2 separate regions of the Homo sapiens genome follow, and region 1 is linked to region 2. Evidence: fine-mapped expression QTL. Tissue or cell type: whole blood. Region 2 holds a variant in brackets; the other region holds the start of a gene. All regions are shown on one strand. Distances are between the middles of the regions.

Region 1 (2,685 bases), 130 kb before region 2:
AAGGTTATAGATTTTAAGCACAGAGGAGGAATTATCTTTAAATTAGAAGAAAAAGCTTGATGAGAGGTTGGAAAGAACACACGCAAGTGAAAATATGTATCTTACTGTATCTACATGTATGTGTATTGTTGTATCTACCTGCAGATATGTATGTCTTATTGTATCTACATGTAGGTATGTATGTATACTTTTAATGTACACATATGCATCTGTGTCTACATATATACATATCTTAGTCTATCTACATGTATGTATCTTACTGTGTCTACACTAAGATGTTTCTTACTGTGTGAGCTACGTTGGAACCTGCTTTTTCATTTATTCTATTGCAACCATTTCCTCCATGCCGGGATTATTCCTCCACATCATTTTTACAGTGTCCTAATACATGCCAGTAGCTGTTTTTGAAGCCATCTAGTAGCGCTGGACATTTTGGCTGTTTGCAATTTTTCACCATCATCAATACCACAGCTTAGTATCTCGAAGGTGAAATATTTGCAGATACCCAGAATTATTTCCTGAGCAGAAAATCCGTGCAGGCGGAACTGCTGAGTCAAAGGTCGGTGGATAAAAATCGCTTTTAAGCCTCACAACCCGCCTCAGGTATGCATTCTTTACCTGAGGAGGAACAGAGAAGCAGAGAGGTTAAATAACTGGCCCAAGGTCAAAAATAATTAGAAGTGGCTGAATTCAAAAGCCGCGCGGGCTCATCAGGCTGCAGTTGGGGTAAAATTTGCGTTTTAGGCAATTTTTTTTTTTTTTTTTTTTGGCGTGTGTCAGTGGGGGAGGGGCCGGGCGGCGGGTAGGAAACTTGTGTCGCAGCAAAGAAGGAGGAGGAGGGGAGGGACTCCCCTCCTCGGTCAGACCGGAGCCGGCCGCACCGAAAAAGGTTGGACTCGGGACTCCGCAGGCCCCCCCAGCCACTCCGCGGGGCGCCTCGGAGGCTGTGACCTCCAGGGAGGTCCGGCTGGGTGCAGCGTGACACGCCGGGGCGGTTGCCAAGGACCTGCCCAATCTGCGGGTCCAGTTGCTAGGGCCTCCATCTTGGGGGCCAGTGGCCGTGGCGCCCCCGGAAGGGGTTGCCGAGTGGGGCATTCACTTCCGGTCTGGGGCCTGCGGCGGCGGCGGTGTCGGCGGCGGCGGCGGCGGCGGCGGCGGCGGCGGCAGCGGGTCGGTGTAGAAAATGGCGCTGGTGCAGCGGCTCGGGCCTCTCCCCGCGGCGCTGCGGAGGGCTTGAGGCTCGCGAGCCTCCTTCGCCGCGCCCCACTTGCTCGTGCACTTTACACACATGAGGTGAGCGGAACAAGGGCCTCCCTCCGGGCGGGAGGAGCCGCGGGCGCTGCCGCAGGGCCCGCAACCCGCGGCGGCGGCAGCAGAGGCGGCGGCGCCGGGCGTCCCCGAGACTTCGGGCCTCGGCGGGAGGGCGCAGGCTGCGTTGCTGCGGAGGCCGAGCGGGCGGCCCGGGGGAGCCTCGCTGCGCCGCGCCGCGGGGGCCAGGCCGGGGTTGCGCCTCGCCCGCGCCGCGGGACCGCAGTCCGGGCTGCAGCCCCGCAGCTTTGTGAGTCCCCCTCCCCCCGTCCTCTCCCCTCCCCCATCCGGCCCCGGCGCGAGCCTCTGCCGCAGCAGCTCCGTTTTCACGCGCATCTCGTTTTTGTGTGTGTGTTTTTGTTTTGTTTTTGTTTTTGTTTTTTTGTTTCAGAGAATTGGAAGCTAAAGCTACCAAAGACGTAGAAAGAAATCTTAGCAGGTAAGATGGGCGAGCTTTCCGTCTCCCGCCCCACGATAATCGTATATTTCTACTCCGATTCGCCTTTTCTGGGTTGAGAAGTTCCCCCGTGACATTTTCTTCCGCACCCGGAGAGCAGACATTCGGGAGAAGCGGCCTGGGGGAATACTGGAGGGATTGCGGGGAGATGCGTAATTACGCGTGTGTTTCTTTCTTTAAAAAAAAAAAAAAAAAGCGCAAAGCAATTCTTGTAAACTTAGTTAAAGCATTCTCACCCTTTTAGAATTTAATTAGGGGACTTGTGCATTAATTACTATTGTAAATGGTTGCAGGCATTGTGTGACTCATGATTGAGGCGGCCCTTATGGCGGGCTGTCAAACTGTTTTGGCTTCCCCGTTATTACTTTGTAGCTCAAATTGTTGCTTTTATAAAAAGATACTATGTGTTCGCATTCCCCCCCGCCCCCCCCCCCCCCCCATACATTGTAGTCAGGCGGATTCTGTTGCATTGGACACAGTTTTGTCCTTGAACTTTACCAAGCATAAGCTGCGTTTTGTTTTCCTTCGAAACTCCATTTCTGTCCATGTTCGGTGTGTGCTCTTTTTATCAGCTGGTAAAATAATTAAAAATCTTTTCTCCAGAAGAGGTTATCGTTCCTGTTGGGCCCTGCTGCTTTTGCATCACCGTGAAGGGAGAATTTTTTTTTTTTTTTAAACGATGTCTTTATGGAATGGAAATATTTAGCTTCATTGAGCTGTAATTGCTTAAGCATCAAGGAATTGTACTGTATTTAACTCCTTTTCACATTCATTTTCTTTCCTACCGTCTTTTCCTTTCTTATTCCCCTTTTTCTTTTGCATCATATTGGGACACTCAGGGAAACTTAGCCAATTAACCAAATCCGTGAATAGCTTTCTTTTTTTCTTTTTTTTCACTTGTTGAAAATAAAATGAAATTT
Region 2 (2,685 bases):
TTGTCTCTTTAAAAAAAGAGAAAAAGTGATTGTGCCACTGCACTCCAGTCTGGACACCAAAGTGAAACCTTGTCTCAAAATAAATAAATAAATAAATAAATAAAAATAAAACAAAAAGGCTTGAGAGAGCCAACTTGACCCATCCATCTACCATATGAGGACATAGCAAGCAAGTGCCACCTATGAGGAACGGGCCCTCACCAGACACTGAATCTGCTGACAGCTCGATCTTGGACTTTCTCCAGAACTGTGAGCAATAAATTTATGTTGTTTACAAATTACACAGTCTAAGGTATTTGATTGTAACAGTAGGAATGGACTAACCCCTGCTTATGTATGGTCTCAAGCCGGAGTCACTACCTCCAGAATAACCTCCCTGCCCGCGTTCTTGCTTCTCATCAAGGCTGCCCCCTGTCTGATCATACCACTTTCTTATTAGAAATTCCTCACTGACATCCTTTAACCCAGAGCACATGTGTGCACTGGAGGTGTTCCTGGCCTTCAGAGATGTTTCAAAATGTATGAGAGCATTTTTGGTTGTCACAATAATTTGGGAGTGCTACTGGCATTCAGCAGGGGGAGGCCTGAAATTCTAGACTTCCTGAAATGTGTATTGCCCACGCAATAAAGATTTTCAGAGGACCCACCAGACATTCATGTGGGCGAAAATCCCATTTATCACTATCTGAGTCCACAACCTACCTTCAGATTGCATAAAATGAAAAGTGTTGGAGTTTTTTCTTACTTTAAAAATGTACCTTGGCTGGGCTGGTAATCCCAGCACTTTGGGAGGCCAAGGTGGGAGGATTTCTTGAGGCTGGAGTTCAAGGCCAGCCTGGGGAACATAGGGAAACCTTGTCTCTTAAAAAATAAAATAGGCCGGGCGCAGTGGCTCACGTCTGTAATCCCAGCACTTTGGGAGGCCGAGGTGGGTGGATCACGAGGTCAGGAGATCGAGACCATCCTGGCTAACACGGTGAAATCCCATCTCTACTAAAAATACAAAAAAAAAAAAAAAAAAAAAAAATTAGCTGAGCGTGGTGGTGGGCGCCTGTAGTCCCAGCTACTCAGGAGGCTGAGGCAGGAGAATGGTGTGAACCGGGGAGGCAGAGCTTGTAGTGAGCCGAGATCAGGCCACTGCACTCCAGCCTGGGAGACAGAGTGAGACTCCATCTCAAAAAATAAATAAATAAATAAAAATAATAAAATAAAATAAAATAAACTTAGCTAAGTGTAAATGGTGGAGTCAAGGTCTTGCTCTTTTTGCCCAGGCTGGAGTGCAGTGGTACAATCTCAGCTCACTGCAACCTCCACCTCCCAGATTCAAGCAATTCTCATGCCTCAGCCTCCTGAGTAGCTGGGACTACAGGCATGCGCCACCACACCCAGCTAATTTTTGTATTTTTAGTAGAGAC[G/A]GGGTCCACCACGTTGCCCAGGTTGGACTTGAACCCCTGGCCTCATGGGATCCACTCACCTCGGCCTCCCGAAGTGCTGGTATTATAGGCATGAGCCACTGAGCCCGGCCAAGGTGTACAGCTTCGGAGCCTGAATTCTTAACATCTCTCCCCATGAACCTGCCCTCTGTGAAACATCACGTTGTGCTGTTGTTGTCCATGGGTGGCTTTGTCCCATCACTGGGCTGTGCATTGCAAGATGGCAAGGATCAAGTATTTTCATTCCGGAATGCCCAAAGGCCAACAGAGTGGAGTTGCATCTTAACACAGAAATAAGTCAATGCCCTGATCACTTGTGGTCAAAAATCACCCTTGGAAATTTTATTAGTTTCTGACTGCTGCTTTAACAAATTACCATGAACTTAGTGGCTAAAACAACATAAATTTATGACCTTACAGTTACAGAGGTTAGAAGTTCTAAATGGGTCTTACTGGGCTAAAATCAAGGTGTCAGCAGGACTGAATTCCTTCTGGATGTGCTAAGGAAGAATCTATTAATTTGCCTTTTCCAGTTCCTAGAAGCCACCTGCACTCCTTGGCTTGTAGCTCCATTACCCCATCTTCAAATCTAACAACGTTGAGTGAAATCCTTCTCATGCTGTCATCTCTGTGGCTATCTCTTCTGATTCTGTTTTTACTGTGATTACATGGGGCCCACCCAGTTAATCCAGGCATCTCCCTATTTTCAGGTTAGCTGCAGCTAGGCATCTCCCAATTTTAAGTGATTTGACTACCAACCTTAATTTTATCTGCAAACTTAATTGTCCTTTGATATGTAACAACATATTCACAGGTTCTGGGGATTAGAGGTAAGCATCTTTGGGGGCCATTTCTCTGTCTACCACAAGATTTCCTTAAATTGCCCATGGATTTGCAGGGTACTGAGAAAACTGCTTAGATTAGTGGCTCAAAGCATGGATTCTGGAGCAAGATTATTGAGTTCAAATCTCAGCTTTATGACCTTGGGCACTTACTTAACTTTTCTGTGTCTCTGTGTCTCAACTTCACCATCTGTAAAATGGGGATGATAACAATAGTGCCCACTTTGCAGGTTAGTAAACACTTAGAATGATGCCCAGGATATAGTAGATGCAATATGAGTGTTTATTAAATATATTAAATTTCATGGTATATGTAGCATTGGAACAAGATTATGGTGTCTGGCTGAGCCTTGGACAAAATTGTTGACTTGACTCTCACCCAGCTGTGAGGTACCACGGAAGTGGAGACT

What was found. PIP is the estimated chance that this variant, and not a neighbour inherited with it, causes the effect.
Region 1: TNRC6A starts here. The variant in region 2 is fine-mapped to the expression of TNRC6A in whole blood (INTERVAL, PIP 0.99).

Annotation. Positions count from the first base shown.
Region 1 is chr16:24,728,554-24,731,238 of GRCh38, forward strand. TNRC6A (trinucleotide repeat containing adaptor 6A) reads left to right here and starts at 1,098. Exons shown (of 25, transcript NM_014494.4): 1 at 1,098-1,293; 2 at 1,700-1,747. The coding sequence starts at 1,289. RefSeq lists a silencer at 1,127-1,436.
Region 2 is chr16:24,855,595-24,858,279 of GRCh38, forward strand. The region is part of intron 2 of SLC5A11 (solute carrier family 5 member 11); the gene reads left to right. Among named protein-coding and RNA genes, the nearest start is that of SLC5A11, 11 kb to the left of the region's middle. The variant G/A (reference allele first, on the strand shown) is at 1,416.